Linked DNA regions of Homo sapiens: region 1 is linked to region 2. The links come from fine-mapping of genetic effects on gene expression. Tissue or cell type: thyroid. Region 2 holds a variant in brackets; the other region holds the start of a gene. All regions are shown on one strand. Distances are between the middles of the regions.

The links. PIP is the estimated chance that this variant, and not a neighbour inherited with it, causes the effect.
Region 1: HSD3B7 starts here. The variant in region 2 is fine-mapped to the expression of HSD3B7 in thyroid (GTEx, PIP 0.94).

The regions. Positions count from the first base shown.
Region 1 is chr16:30,981,749-30,989,748 of GRCh38, forward strand. HSD3B7 (hydroxy-delta-5-steroid dehydrogenase, 3 beta- and steroid delta-isomerase 7) reads left to right here and starts at 3,459. Exons shown (of 7, transcript NM_025193.4): 1 at 3,459-3,549; 2 at 3,905-4,076; 3 at 4,301-4,456; 4 at 4,675-4,783; 5 at 4,857-4,956; 6 at 5,092-5,254; 7 at 6,020-7,399. The coding sequence starts at 3,911. The coding sequence ends at 6,435. It overlaps SETD1A (SET domain containing 1A, histone lysine methyltransferase), which reads left to right. Exons shown (of 19, transcript NM_014712.3): 18 at 1,887-2,024; 19 at 2,102-2,916. The coding sequence ends at 2,275. It overlaps STX1B (syntaxin 1B), which reads right to left. Exons shown (of 10, transcript NM_052874.5): 10 at 7,508-8,000. RefSeq lists enhancers at 2,928-3,440, 6,286-6,785.
Region 2 is chr16:30,885,358-30,893,357 of GRCh38, forward strand. BCL7C (BAF chromatin remodeling complex subunit BCL7C) reads right to left here. Exons shown (of 6, transcript NM_004765.4): 2 at 7,855-7,933; 3 at 7,483-7,591; 4 at 7,229-7,390; 5 at 3,503-3,588; 6 at 2,438-2,633. The coding sequence ends at 2,508. The region is part of intron 2 of MIR762HG (MIR762 host gene); the gene reads left to right. Among named protein-coding and RNA genes, the nearest start is that of MIR762, 4.5 kb to the right of the region's middle. RefSeq lists enhancers at 2,099-2,600, 7,677-8,000, 7,848-8,000. The variant G/A (reference allele first, on the strand shown) is at 4,900.

The sequences.
Region 1 (8,000 bases), 96 kb after region 2:
TGTTCCAGCCTGAGCAATATTGCCAGACCCCGTTTCTGCAAAAAATACAAAAGCTAGCCGGGCGTGGGGGTACATGGCTGTGGTCCCAGCTACCCAGGAGGCTGAGGTGGGAGGATCACTCGAGACCACGAGGTGGAGGCTGCTGTGAGCCAAGATTGCACCACTGCACTCCAGCCTGGGCAACAGGGTGAGACCGTGTCTCTAGAAAAAACAAAAGCCAAAAGGATGGCATTTGGTATTAACAAGATCTTAACAAGATCTGGGGAGTTGGGCTATGGGAACACACACCTGGGGGGCCTAAGACCTTCCAGAGACCATGGTGCTTGAGTAAAGCTGAAAGGAGCTCGCAGGCCCAGACAAGTGGTAGTGTGTGTGCGCTTGGTTGCGAGACACCATGTGCACAAACCTGGAGGCACGGTCGTCTTGTGAGAGTGTGGAGGTCAGCTTGGCTCATTAGAAACCAGGGCCATGGCCAGGCGCGGTGGCTCATGCCTGTAATCCGAGCACTTTGGGAGGCTGAGGCAGGCAGATCACCTGAGGTCAGGAGTTCGAGACCAGCCTGGCCAGCATGCTAAAACCCCGTCTCTACTAAAAATACAAAAATTAGCCAGGCGTGGTGGCAGGCGCCTGTAATCCCAGCTACTAGGGAGGCTGAGGCAGGAGAATCGCTTGGACCTGGGAGGCAGAGGTTGCAGTGAGCCAAGATCGCGCCATTGCACTCCAGCCTGGGCGACAGAGCAAGACTCCGTCTCAAAAAAAAAAAAAAGAAAAGAAAAAACAGGGTCAGTGGCAGCGACGTGTGGCTGGAGGGAACAGAGAGCCCAGACCGCACGGGCTTGGGAGCCTGTGAATCCACTTGGGCCTGTGGTGAGAGAGGAGGAAAGTCCCGGAGCTTTCTTCAGGAGAGGGTCCTTCCGCAGGAGAGGGTCCTTCCGCAGGAGAGGGCCCCATGGCTAGTGAGCTCCATGTCTAGGCTGACACCAGTATCCAGGCAAAGGCAAGGGTGGCCCGACCCAAGCAGTGGCAGCAGAGGTGACAGAGAGGAGGCTTTGGGTGCAAGGTGGTTGGCTGGGCTCAGCAGTGAGAGGGTGAGGGGGACGGGAGGCCCTCTCTCGGTGCTGCTCTTAGCTGCTGGGAGTATGATGGGAGGGCCAGTGAGATGGGTGTGAGGAGGAAGAACAAATATATGGTCAAGATGAGCTCCAGTCTGGACATGTGGGGTTGCAATGCCCCAGGGACATCTAGGGGATGACGCCCAGCAGCTCCACTGAGGTGGCTTTTGGCTGGAAATGGAAGTTTGGGAGGAGTCCCCACCACATAGCTGGCGGCTGAGGCTCTGGAAGGGAGTGAGGTCACCCGAGGAGGGCGTGCAGAGGCTCCTCACTGTCTTCTGGGAAGTAAGGGTTGCTCCTCACACGGAGGTGCGGGGCCTGACATGGGCGGCCTGCCATTTGCATTAGCCGGTGGCAGCCAACAGGTGCCTGTTTTGGAGAGAGGTCCAGGGAGGAGAGATGAGCAGGGTGCCGTTGGTGACATGGCCAGTCATTTCAGGAGCTGCCCCAACCCCAGACTTGCCCCAGCAGTCCGGGACCCCACTGTGACCAGGCAGATGCTCGAAGGAGTCAGTGGCTCTCTTACCCAGTGCAGATTTCCCTGGAGTTCCCTGCGGGTGACTTAGAATGGCCACCAGAGGCTTAGGATGCTGCCCCAAAGAGGGAGGGCTCCTGGAAGCAGAGTCGAGAGAGTCAGTGCCGGGTTAGCGGGAGCTGGAGGCAGAGCTGCAGCTCCAGGCCTGGTGGGCGTGGACCTGGGGTGCTGGCTGGCAGGCGTGCTCAGGGGCAGGAAGTGGGGGACTCTTCCCTGACCATCGCATCTCACCCTGGCAGATGGTGGCCGACATGCGGGAGAAGCGCTACGTGCAGGAGGGCATTGGCAGCAGCTACCTGTTCCGGGTGGACCACGACACCATCATCGATGCCACCAAGTGTGGCAACCTGGCCAGATTCATCAACCACTGCTGCACGGTGCGCCAGGGGCCAGCCGGGGCAGGAGTTGGGGGTCGGTGGGGGTGGCCACGGCTCACACGCCCTTCCATCCGCAGCCTAACTGCTACGCCAAGGTCATCACCATCGAGTCCCAGAAGAAGATCGTGATCTACTCCAAGCAGCCCATTGGCGTGGACGAGGAGATCACCTACGACTACAAGTTCCCACTGGAAGACAACAAGATCCCGTGTCTGTGTGGCACAGAGAGCTGCCGGGGCTCCCTAAACTGAGGTGGGGCAGGATGGGTGCCCACACCCCTATTTATTCCCCCTGGTGCCCTGAGCTCCCAGCACCCCCCCAGCCTTAGTGGGCTCAGCAGGGCCCACATGCCCCCATCTCCAAGCGTGGGGTTGGGGGCCCCAAGCCCAGCGAGGGAGCCTCAGTCCCTGGAGGCAGCTTCTGCCTCTCCTGTCACCCCTGCCCACCACCCCCTGATTGTTTTTCTTTGCGGAGAAGAAGCTGTAAATGTTTTGTAGCAGCCAGCAGCTGTTTCCTGTGGAAACCTGGGGTGCCGGCCTGTACAGATTCTGTCCTGGGGGGCTACACAGTCCTCTTGCTTTGTGTTAATGGGGACTTCCCCTTACGCCCTGCGTGTACCCCTCCCCAGTTTAGGGGTCTCTGGGGCAGTGGCCATGTTCTCCCCCTGGGGGGGCTCTGCACCCCCAGTCCTGGGGACTCCGTGCCTGGAACCCTGCCTCATCTGTTCCTGCCAGACCCTGAGGGTCACCCTTCCACCCTGGTGTCACTCCCCGGCTCAGCCAGGCCAGGATGGCGGGGTGGGTCCCTTTTGCTGGGCTGGACTGTACATATGTTAATAGCGCAAACCCGACGCCACATTTTTATAATTGTGATTAAACTTTATTGTACAAAAGTGTTTGGTCGGTGTATTTGGGCAGGAGCGAGGGGTTGGGGGTAGAGGGCACGGAGGGTTGTGCAAGTTGAAGAGAGGGAAAAGTGGGTACCTGAAGTGTGGGGCAGGTAAAGGGGCCTTCAGGCAAGAGCCCAGACCTGCAGAGACAGTCCGAGACTGTCTCGGACCCCCTGACAGGCTGCAGCAGCCGCACCCGCACCAGGAATACCCCACCAGTGCCCGCCAGGGTGGTGCCAAGGTCAGGCCTCCCCTTCCTACAATCACAGCTGCAGCTGGACCTCCGGCCTCCTGGGAAGCCCAGCAGGAGGGAAGGCCTGAGGTCACACTGTGGGATGAGGTCACCGCTGGCTCCACCCACAGCCCCAGACCCCTTCAGCCCACTCTGCAAGTTCGAGCTTCATCCCCACCAAGTTCTCCGCTGGACCCAGATGCCAGTGGAGCACAGAGCGGCCGCCAGGGGGCGCCTTGGGGCAAGAGTGGTGGGGGTTGTGGCTGGGCGGGTCTCTGTTCCTGGAATGGGGCAGGAGGGAGAAGGAGGAGCCAGCGGAAGGACGGTGTGCGGGCCGGCCAGCCCTGGACGAAAGAAGAGGGCCCCTCCAGGCCAGTCTGGGCACCCTGGGATAGCGGCTGCAGGTAGGCAGAGGCGCTGCCAGTGCCCAGGTGGCCTTTCCCTCCATCCGGCCCTTCCCACCTTCCTATAACCTTCCCTCCACCTCCCTCAACTCCTGGCCTCCCCACCCTTTTACTGCCTTCAAATCTCTCTCCCTAAACCCTGACCCCTTCCTGCACCCCAAGCCCGCCCCTCTCTCCGTAACTCAGCCATCAGCAGGGGCAGACGGCAGGTGGCCTGGTTGCTGCAGCTCCCAGGATCAGCTCTGCCCTCCCCGCAAACGCCAGCCTCGTCACCGCTCCAGGGCACCTCCAGCAGTAACAGGTGGTTGCAGCAGGTGGCAGCCAGCCCCTGGATGAGCCAAGGTCTCTTCCCCAGCCAGGCATGGCCGACTCTGCACAGGCCCAGAAGCTGGTGTACCTGGTCACAGGGGGCTGTGGCTTCCTGGGAGAGCACGTGGTGCGAATGCTGCTGCAGCGGGAGCCCCGGCTCGGGGAGCTGCGGGTCTTTGACCAACACCTGGGTCCCTGGCTGGAGGAGCTGAAGACAGGTTCTTGTTGGGGGAGCTTGTGGTGGAGAGGGTGTGGACGCTTCCCCAACCCTTCCCAAGCTGGGATCCCCACCCCTGCAGTGGAACAGATGATGCTGGTTTCTGTCCACATGGATGGGTCGAGTGAGTCACATTGGGAACGTGACTCCAGGGTGGAAGATGAACCCAGCCTCTGGCCTCTGGCCCCAGCTCTGACATGGCCTGTGTCCTCCAACCCCGGCCAGGGCCTGTGAGGGTGACTGCCATCCAGGGGGACGTGACCCAGGCCCATGAGGTGGCAGCAGCTGTGGCCGGAGCCCATGTGGTCATCCACACGGCTGGGCTGGTAGACGTGTTTGGCAGGGCCAGTCCCAAGACCATCCATGAGGTCAACGTGCAGGGTGAGGAGCTCTGGACACTCCTGGCCATCTTGCCTGTTTGTTCCCCACTCTGTCTTTGGCCTTGACCTCCGGTGACTCCCCTGGGACAAGTTGTCCTATTGACAGCCCTGCCCCCGCCTCCCCTGACCTGTCATGGTTTTCCCTGGACCTGGGATGGGGAGGAGGAAGATGCAGAGAGGGAAGAAGCTGCAGCTTGGATACGCCTCCTCCTCTGCCAGGTACCCGGAACGTGATCGAGGCTTGTGTGCAGACCGGAACACGGTTCCTGGTCTACACCAGCAGCATGGAAGTTGTGGGGCCTAACACCAAAGGTCACCCCTTCTACAGGTGAGTGGCAGGCCCTCTTGTCCTCTAAGAGCCCATTTCCCTCAGCATTGAGTCTTCCTTCTCCTCCCACCAGGGGCAACGAAGACACCCCATACGAAGCAGTGCACAGGCACCCCTATCCTTGCAGCAAGGCCCTGGCCGAGTGGCTGGTCCTGGAGGCCAACGGGAGGAAGGTGAGCCCAGAAAAAGGAGGCGCAGAGATGGGGCTCCTGCCCTGCACACCCCCTTACCCTGCCAGCCCAAGGAGGCCGGGGCCGAGAGCAAGCTGTCGGGTCCCAGGTCTCAGCAGTACCTGCCTTTGCCACCAGGTCCGTGGGGGGCTGCCCCTGGTGACGTGTGCCCTTCGTCCCACGGGCATCTACGGTGAAGGCCACCAGATCATGAGGGACTTCTACCGCCAGGGCCTGCGCCTGGGAGGTTGGCTCTTCCGGGCCATCCCGGCCTCTGTGGAGCATGGCCGGGTCTATGTGGGTGAGGACTGGGCTAGGCAGGGGGAGGCTGAGAATATGGCAGGAGGACTTGCTCTAGAAGGGGGCAGGACCCACATGGCCCTGGGAGAGAAGTGTGGACTCTGGCTAGAAAAATATGGTCTATACATGGGCCAAGGTAGACTGTGATTATGTCTCCACAGCCTGCAGAGAATACAGGATCCATGCAAGTTGGGACATTAAAAAGTGTATCATAGGCTACAGAGAAGATTGCAGCTATGGGAGCAGCCATTCCCCAGGAGAGGAGAGGAGAGGGACAGTGTGTACACAGCACTAAAAGGGCTGGGTTCAGTGGCTCGCATCTATAATCCCAGCACTTTAGGAGGCTGAGGCGGGAGGATGGCCTGAGCCCAGGAGTTGGAGGCTGCAGTGAGCTATGACCGCACCACTGCACTCCAGCCTGGATGACAGAGACAGACCCTGTCTCTAAAACTTTTTTTAAAGGAAGTAGCATCTACACAGGGAATAAGGTCACCTGCCACTCCATCCTGCAGTCCCCAAGCCTCTCAGGGCCCACCACGCAGGTCCTGGTTTCTCTATCCTCTCCCCAGGTTCTTTGCAGATGCAGGCTGGCCCAGGAGAGCAAGTGACTACCAGGGCGAGGGAGAAGGCAGCCTTTCCCAGGCTGCTGTGGGGATGTGGGCGGCAACTACCTGGGCCCAAAGAGGGGGTGGCCCAGGAGAGCAGCCTCGATGTGGTGTTGCAAGGGCACTCAGGGGTGTGTCCGCCTCTCTTCCGCCACCGGCAGGCAATGTTGCCTGGATGCACGTGCTGGCAGCCCGGGAGCTGGAGCAGCGGGCAACCCTGATGGGCGGCCAGGTATACTTCTGCTACGATGGATCACCCTACAGGAGCTACGAGGATTTCAACATGGAGTTCCTGGGCCCCTGCGGACTGCGGCTGGTGGGCGCCCGCCCATTGCTGCCCTACTGGCTGCTGGTGTTCCTGGCTGCCCTCAATGCCCTGCTGCAGTGGCTGCTGCGGCCACTGGTGCTCTACGCACCCCTGCTGAACCCCTACACGCTGGCCGTGGCCAACACCACCTTCACCGTCAGCACCGACAAGGCTCAGCGCCATTTCGGCTATGAGCCCCTGTTCTCGTGGGAGGATAGCCGGACCCGTACCATTCTCTGGGTACAGGCCGCTACGGGTTCAGCCCAGTGACGGTGGGGCTGGGGCCTGGAGGCCCAGATACAGCACATCCACCCAGGTCCCGAGCCCTCACACCCTGGACGGGAAGGGACAGCTGCATTCCAGAGCAGGAGGCAGGGCTCTGGGGCCAGAATGGCTGTCCTTGTCGTAGAGCCCTCCACATTTTCTTTTTCTTTTTTGAGACAGGGTCTTGCTCTGTCACCCAGACTGGAGTGCAGTGGTGTGATCATAGCTCACTGCACCCTCAACCTCCTGGGTTCAAGCAATCCTCCTGCCTCAGCCTCCTGAACAGCTGGGACCACAGGTGCACGCCACCACACCTGGCTTTTTTTTGTTGTTTTTAGAGACAGGGTCTCACTATATTGCTCAGGCTGGTCTTGAACTCCTGGGCTCAAGTGATCTTCCCACGTGGGCCTCCCAAAACGCTGGAACTACAAGTGTGAGCCACCGCGCCTGGCCCAAGCCCTCCACATTTTCAATCCAGGAGCCTTGAGTCTGTGTTGTGTCCTGACACCTCCAAGTTCTAGGGCCGTCAGGACACGGGAGGGTTTGGGGACAGAGTGTCCTTCCTCTGTCCTCTCATCCCAGTCCTGATGGCCGCTTGGTGAGTGTCTGGTGCCCTGGTGGCCTGCCCCAGCTCTCTTCTGGCTTTCTGAGCAGGAAGCGAGCAGAGGCTCCACAGGCTTACGCTGCTCTCCTGACAGCCACACGCGACCCTCGGTGCAGAGTGCAGAGGCGGCTCTGGTTCCTCCAGCCACCTCAGTCCCTCTTTGGGAGGTGATGTTCCCATTGTTTTTCAAAGGCCTCACCTTCAACTGTCTGTCTTAGAATTCCCCTCTGGAGGGCTATGGCCTCCCTATGCTTTCACTTCCCACCTCTCTACCTAAGTTCCTTCCCAGCACATCGCCAGCCCTGGGCCTGGGGATGTCCCCAATGCTGTACCTGGCTGACCCCGGATTAAAAGCCTCATCCACGACCGTGTCCATCTGTCTGTCCAGCTCTCCCTCCCATCCCCCCACCCCATGTCCGCCTCCCCACGGCGCCCATCCCACGTGGGGACAGAAGGAAGTGAGCACACGGCACACCCGCTGTTGGATTGGTTGCTATTTCTCCCGTCCCACAGGGCCTGACCTGGCCCAGGGTGGGGTGGGGGGCTCTGGGGACAGGACATGCAGGGAGGAAGGGGGGGGCAGGATTTTCCTGTGTTTTATCCATTTGCAAGTTGGTCACCAATAGAAATGGGACTCTGAGGGCTAACAGAAATGGGACTCTGAGGGCTAACAGGAGAGGGCGGCCTGGCTCTGGGCCCCAGCCAGGCCCCAGGAGTCCTGTCCCCTCTGAGAAGGGGAGGGAGAGAGCTCTAGAAACCAACGGAGAAACAGAGAAGGGGGCAGGGGCTCATGTCAGCAAACACGGCTACATCACGTGACACGCCAGTGACACAGAAACACACGCCAACGCACACGGCTGCACAGCGGGCAGGGGCGGTTAGGGGAAAGGGAGCCGGGGCCACCCATCTTGTCCTCTGCAGGGCGGGCTGGGGGGCAGGGTGAATGCATAGAACACATCATGTGTAC
Region 2 (8,000 bases):
AGACTAACTTTGGACTTCTCCAGAACTGTAAGAGAATCAATGTCTGTGGCTTTTTCTTTTTTTTTTTTTTGAGATGGAGTCTTGCTCCATCACCCAGGCTGGAGTATAGTGGTGCGATCTCGGCTTACTGCAACCTCCCGGATTCAAGCAGTTCTCCTGTCTCAGCTTCCCGAGTAGCAGGGATTACAGGCGCCCGCCACTATGCCCAGCCAACTTTTGTATTTTTAGTAGAGACGGAGTTTCACCTTGTTGGTCAGGCTGGTCTCACACTCCTGACCTCAGGTGATCCACCCACCTCGGCCTCCCAAGGTGCTGGGATTATAGGCATGAGCCACTGTGCCTGGCTAATGTCTGTGGCTTTGAGCCCCTATATGTGTGGCAATTTGTTACAGCAGTGATAAGAAACAGTTACACTACATTGCAGCAAGCCTGGCTTCCCTGGACAGCACTGGCTCCACCAACACCACTGCAGCTGCTGTCGGAAGCATCCTTACATTTCCTTTGTTTGTTTAGACACAGGGTCTTGCTTTGTTGCCCAGATTTGAGCACAGTGGTGCAATCATCACTCACTGCAGCCTCAACTTCCCGGGCTCAAGCAATCTTCCCACCTCAGCCTCCCAAGAAGCTTGGACTACAGGCGCGCACCAGTATGCCTGGCTAATTTTTTCATTTTTGTCTTGCTTTGTTGCTCAAGCTGGTCTCAAACTCCTGGCCTCAAGCAGTCCTCCCACCTGTGCCTCTCAAAGGCCTGGGATTACAGGTGTGAGCCACCACACCTAGCCTACAGTTTTTAATGCTTCTTTAAAGTTCCAATTTGGTCCTCTCTGAACCTCAGTATCTTTCTTTATTAAAAATAAAAATAGGGCCAATATACATGACCCTATAGGCACAGAGTGAGAGGGCCTTATATTACTCGAAGCTTCCCACAAACCCCTGGGGCAGATGAGGCCTAGTTATTGTTCCCATTGCTCAGATGAACAAACTAAGGCTGAGAGTAGAAACAGCCTGCCTAGAGCCACTCAGGGAGTAACAGAGCCAGGACTTGAACCAGGGCTTCTGACTTGAGTTCTAGCACAGAGGTTCATGTCTCAGAGCCCAGCTCACATGCCACCTCCTCAGAGAAGCCTGCCTGGAAAACCCCAGCCCATTCATGTATTCATTTATTCATGAAGCAGCTGCTGGGACTGCCCTGTTCCCAGTGTTGTGTGGAGACCCCTCAGGAGCCCACAGCCTCGTAGACAAGACAGACACACAAACCACGGATCCCAGAACAGCCTGATAAATGATGAAACAAGGAGAATGAAGCCCAAGGGGTTGCTGGAGCTCAAAAAAGGGGAAACTCACTGAGCCTGGAGTCAGGGAAGGCTTCTCGGAGGAGATGGTGATTGAGATGGGGATAAGTTAGACCCAACCAGAAGTGTGGCCAGGCATCCCAGGTGGAGGAGTGGCTTCTTCAGGGCAGGGAATGGGTTGGTCATCCCAGGCCCCCAAGTCCCTCTGGGCCTCTGTGTTATTATGTATGAAACGTGAATAGGCTGGGCGCGGTGGCTCACGCCTGTAATCCCAACACTTTAGGAGGCCAAGGCAGGAGGAACACTTGAGCCCAGGAGTTCAAGACCAGCCTGGGCAATGTAGCGAGACCCCATGTCTACAAAAAATAAAATTAGCAGGCTGGGCATGGTGGCTCATGCCTGTAATCCCAGCACTTTGGGAGGCCGAGGCGGGCAAATCACTTGTGGTCAGGAGTTTGAGACCAGCCTGGCCAACATGGCAAAACCCAGTCTCTACTAAAAATACAAAAATTAGCCGGGCGTGGTGGCAGGCACCTCTAATCCCAGCTACTCAGGAGGCTGAGGCAGGAGACTTGCTTGAACCCAGGAGGCAGAGTTTGCAGTGAGGCGAGATTGCGCCATTGCACTCCAGCCTGGGCAACAAGAGCAAAACTCTCTAAAAAAAAATAGTGATAAATAAATAAATAAATAAATAAAATTAGCTGAGTATGGTGGCACACACCTGTGGTCCCGGCTACTTGGGAGGCTGAGGTGGGATGTCAAGGCTGCAGTGAGCCATGATCGCACCACTGCACTCCTGCCTGGGCAACAGAACAAGTCTGTGTCTCAAAAAAAAAAAAAAAAAAAAAAGAATCATGGCCTAGCTACCCAGAGTTTTGATAATTGTTAGGCCCAGGCGAGGGCTGAGCAGGAAGAGGGGTCCTGGGCCTCCCAGAGGAGGAGGTGAAGGTCGGGAGATAGGACAGACCTGGGAAGTACTGAGAGGCAGGGTCCTGGCTCAAGCCCCCACCCCACTCTGCCTTGTGGTGTCACTACAGGAAGGTCCTCTCAGAGCCTCAGTGACCACATCTGAGCAATGGTGCATGAGACAAAACTGTCTCCAAAGACCCTCCCCAGCCCTGACGGGGAAATGACATGACACAAAATTACAAAAGGGTCTTTATTTGTAAAAAGCCAAAGGGGCCCCTGGGGCAACAGGACAGGCAGGCCGGCTTCTCAGGGGTCAGGGGCATTTGGGCAGATGCGCTTGAGTGGGGGGGCACCCTCCGAGTCCTCTGTGTCACCCTGGGCTGCCTCAGGGACAGGTGGCACTGGCTCAAAGACAGGGTAAGCTTCGGGGGCCTGGAGAGGAAGGGTGGACAGGCGTGAGCTCCACAGAACCCAGGCGTCCAGCCTCTGAGCCTCTGCCTTCTCCAAAGCCTCCACTCCCCTCCCCTCCTGGGCCCGGGAGGCAAGCCCAGGGCCAGATGCCCAGGATGCAGAGGAAGCAGGCACCAAAAACAACAACGACAGTGACACTGTGTGGAGGAACGAACCTGATATTTGATATTTCTGAAAATGCCTCGAGGTAGCCTCGTGAGAAATGTCAGAGGTTTATAAGGAATTTTCTTATGCTAATTATACAGTTAGATATTTTTTGATATTTTTTGAAAATGCATGGAGGAGCGCCATGATTTTGTCAGGCTTTATTTATTTATTTATTTTTGAGAAGGAGTCTCGCTCTGTCACCCAGGCTGGAGTACAGTGGCGCGATCCTGGCTCACTGCAGCCTCCGCCTCCCGGGTTCAAGCAATTCTCCTGCCTTAGCCTCCCGAGTAGCTGGGACTACAGGCACGTGCCACCACGCCCGGCTAATTTTTGTATTTTTAGTAGAGACGGGGTTTCACCGTGTTAGCCAGGATGGTCTCGATCTCCTGACCTCATGATCCACCCGCCTCCGCCTCCCAAAGTGCTGGGATTACAGGCGTGAGCCACCACGCCCAGCTTTGTCAGGCTTTTAATGGTCTCAATCAGCCCTGATCCAGCCCTCAGCACTTTGTCTCTGAAACACCCTTTCTTTTTCAGTCCCAAGAACCCAGCCCCTAAGCCTTCAGCTCTGTCCCAGGTCTGCCTCTCCTCCAGGCCCTCAGGACGCAGGCTCCAAGCCTTCGACTGCCCAGATCCCCCATTCCCTCCAAGACCCAGGAGTCCAGCCTTCTGGCCTCTCTCACCTCAGCTTCCAGCAGTTCTGGAACAGGCTCCTCCTTGGTCAGCATTGGGGGTTCGTCGGTGCTGCCAGCAGTTATGCCCCCGGGATCTGGAACGTCAAGGTAACAAACATCCCCTGAACAGCCACTCTGTGCCAGCAGCACAGACAGTGGGGGAAACAGATGGTCACAGGCCCCAGTCACAGAGGGCAGAGGGCCATGGGAGCAGAGAGGAGAGAGCAGGAACCTGGCTGTGCCCCAGGAAGCAGAGGAGGGAACACTGATGTGGGAGCTCGAGGGTGATGCGGTGGACAGGAAAGTATGACACGTGAGACAGAGGGAATGCATGCTAAGTTGCCACAGATTCTGGGCTTGGACTGCCTGGGTTCAAATCCTGACCTTGGGCCAGCTACTTCATTTCCATGGGCCTCAGTTTCCCCATCTGTAAAATGGGGATAATGATAGTAATTACCTCATGTGGCTGTTGTGAGGGTCAGATGAGCGGATGCAGGTAAAGCACAGTGGCTGGCACACAGTAAGTGCTCAATAAATGCTTGCTACCATTTTTATATTAGCAAAGGTATACAACTGCTTGGCACTGTCTAGACCCAGACCCAGTCCACAGGCCCACATCAGGGTTTTCTTTTTGTGTGTTTGTTTGTTTTAGTTTTTGAGACAGAGTCTCGCTGTGTCCCCCAGGCTGGAGTGCAGTGGCGCGATCTCGGCTCACTGCAACCTCCGCCTCCCAGGTTCAAGTGATTCTCCTGCCTCAGCCTCCCTAATAGCTGGATTACAGGCATGTGCCACCACGTCCCGCTGATTTTTTGTATTTTTAGTAGAGACAGGGTTTCACATTCTGGGAGGCTGAGGCAGAAGGATCGCTTGAGCCTAGGAGTTTGAAACCAGCCTGGGCAACATAGTAAGACCCTGTCTCTATAAAGAATAACAACACTAATTAGCTGAGCATGGTGATGCATGCCTGTAGTCCCAGCTACTCAGGAGGCTGACTGAGCCCAGGAATCCAAGGCTGCAGTGAGCCGTGATCACGCCTCTGCATTCCAGCCTGGGCGACAGAGTGAGACCTTGTCTCAAAAAAAAAAAAAAAAAAGCAAAGCTTAAAAAATGAAGGAAAAAGTTGTTCTGGCAGCTGTGTGGAGGTGACTAGAAGAGACCAGCTGGAACCAAAAACGGGTGAGAAATGGGAAGGCCAGGGACAGGGAGCCTAGGAGGAAGAGGTGCCAATCAGACGGGTTTGACTGCATGGAAGAAAGCAGAGCTGGCTGGGCACGGTGGCTCAAGCCTGTAATCCCAGCACTTTGGGAGGCCGAGGCAGGTGGATCACGAGGTCAGGAGTTCAAGACCATCCTGACCAACATGATGAAACCCCGTCTCTACTAAAAATACAAAAATTAGCCGGGTGT[G/A]GTGTTGTGCAGCCTGTAATCCCAGCTACTCAGGAGGCTGAGGCAGGAGAATTGCTTGAACTTGGGAGGCGGAGGTTGCAGTGAGCAAGATCGTGCCACTGCACTCCAGCCTAGGTGACAGAGTGAGACTCCATCTCAAAGGAAAAAAAAAAAGCAGAGCTGATGAGGACACAGGCCCAAGATGCTGGCTCACTGGCTGAGTTACTTCTCTGGGTCTCAGTTTCCTCATCTATAAATAGGGATCATAACAAGATCATCACCCTTATAAGGTTGTAGTAAAAATTAAATGAGAAAAAAACACGTAAAGTGTTGGCTGGGCACGGTGGCTCACACCTGTAATCCTAGCACTTTGGGAGGCCGAGGCGGGCGGATCACCTGAGGTCAGGGGTACGAGACTAGCCAGGCCAACATGGTGAAACTCCATCTTTACTAAAAATACAAAAATTAGGCCAGGCACGGTGGCTCACGCCTGTAATCCCAGCACTTTGGGAGGCTGAGGCAGGCGGATCACCTGAAGTCGGGAGTTCGAGACCAGCCTGGCCAACATGGAGAAACCTCGTCTCTACTAAAAATACAAAATTAGCGGGGCATGGTGGTGCATGCCTATAATCCCAGCTACTCGAGAGGCTGAGGCGGGAGAATCGCTTGAACCCGGGAGGCAGAGGTTGCGGTGAGCTGAGATTGTGCCATTGCACTCTAGTCTGGGCAACAAGAATGAAACTCTGTCTCAAAAACAAACAAACAAATAAACAAAAAAAACAAAAATCAGCCGGGCATGGTGGCATGCCTGTAATCCCAGCTACATGGGAGGCTGAGGCAGAAGAATCGCTTGAACCTGGGAGGCAGAGTTTGCAGTGAGCCAAGATCGTACCACTGCTCTCCAGCCTGGGCAACAGAGCAAGACTTCATCTCAAAAAAAAAAAAAAAAAAGGCTGGGCGTGGTGGCTCGTAATCCCAGCACTTTGGGAGGCCAAGGCGGGCAGATCACCTGAGGTCAGGCGTTTGAGACCAGCCTGGCCAACATGGCGAAACCCCAACTCTACTAAAAATACAAAACCAGCCGAGCATGGTGGTTCATGCCTATATTCCCAGCTACCCAGGAGGCTGAGGCAGGAGAATTGCCTGAACCCAGGAGGTGAAGGTTGCAGTGAGCCAAGATTGTGCCGTCGCACTCCAGCCTTGGCAAGAGCGAAACTCTCTCAAAGAAAAGAAAAAGAGAAAAGAAAAAAACCCAACCACGTAAAGTGTTTACCAGGGCACCTAGCACACAGTAAGAGCTCAATAAATACTAGCTGTTGTTATTCCTATTATTGTTAATCACCCCTATGACTATCACTATTATTTATTCACTCAACAGATATTTACTGAGCACCTACTATGTGTCCCATATTATTCTGAGGATACAGTAGTGAACAAGATCACATAGGGCCAGGCACAGTGACTCACGCCTATAATCCCAGCACCTTGGGAGGCTGAGACAGGAGGATCATTTCAGGCCACGAGTTCAAAACCAACCTTGGCAACATAGCGAGACCCTACCTCTACAAAAAATTTAAGAATTGGCTGGGCATGGTGGCACACACCTGAGTCCCAGCTATTTGGGAGGCTGGGGCCAGAGGATCCCTTGAGCCCAGGAGTTTGAGGCTGCAGTGAGCTATGATTGCACCAGAGTACTCCAGCGTGGGTGACAGAGACCTTGTCTCTAAAAAAAAGGGGGGGGAGGGCCGGGTGTGGGTGTGATGGCTCACACCCGTAATCCCAGCACTTTGGGAGGCTGAAGGTGGAGGACTGCTTGAGCAAGTGAGTTTGAGACCAGCCTGGGCAACATGGTGAAACCTTATCTCTACAAAAAATACAAAAATTAGCCAGGTGTGGTGGCATATGCCTGTGGTCCCAGCTACTTGGGAGGCTGAGGCGGGAGGATCGCTTGAGCCCAGGAAGTTCAAGGCTGCAGTGAGCTATGATCACACCACTATACTACTCCAGCCTGGGTGACAGAGCGAGACCCTTTCTCAAAAAAAAAAAAAAAAAAAAAAAAAAAAAAGGATCAATATGGGCCCAACATTCAGGAAACTGACATGAGAGTGAGGAGAAAGATAAACTAGTAAAAAATTAATTTACATGAAAATCTCAGACAGTGATATGTCTGTATAGATTCTAAGAGACCAGAGGAATGAGACTGTAGCTACAGGGAGATTCTGCAGGAGTCGGAAGGCGCCTTGAGGAGGGTGCACAAGACGGGGAGCAGGTATAGGGATGAGCTGGTAGGTTAGACTCTGGAGAAGACAGGACTTAGAGGAGAGAGCTCCTGGGAGGTACCTGGTCCTACCTCTCTCTTGGCCCAGCCGTGGGGGCTGAGCCTCCTCAGGGACCCCTTCTGGGGGTCCGGCAGGTGACACAGGGCGGCTGGGCTGGGGGGTGCCCCCAGGACTGGGCTCTGTGCCCTTTTGCAGGGAACCTTCCGAATGGAAACTCTGGTTGCTGTTCTCATCTGCGGGAGCAAGAGCCGAGATGGTTGGCCTGAGATCCCTAGTACACTCCTTCAGTCCCCACAGCCCCCCGCGTTTCAGGATCCCTACCTACCATTAAGATCCAGCAGGATGAGAGGGCCACCCCCTCGGGGACTGGCGCCCCTGCCCCGACGTTCCCGGCCACGGGATCTCTCTGCCCCGCCACCTGCCCGCCTTCGCTCCTGGGGGTTAGAGGATTAGGGTCAGAGCTCTTGGAAAGCCCCACCATACACCTAAGGAAACTGAGGCACTGAGAAGCAAAAGGGCTCAAACTCAGGGGGTGTGGAGCAGAAAAGAGGGCAAAAGGGGAGGAGCTGCTAATGATGGTTCCCGTCTGTCCTGCTGCATCTGAGGTCTCGGGGAGCTGGAGGTAGAGGTCAGCGTGGGGAGGAACTTGCCTGAGGTTGCACAGATGCAGGGCCTTGTGGGAATGGGGGTTGCTCACCTCCTCCTGGGGATCCACCACTGGCACCCACTTGAAGATACGAAGGGAAGTGTCGCCCACAGTCACCCATCGCTTCTCCCTGTGGGAGGGTGGGGGGCTGGGTCAGAGAGGCCTGAGGGGAGACCCACCCCCCTAGGAGCTGGACA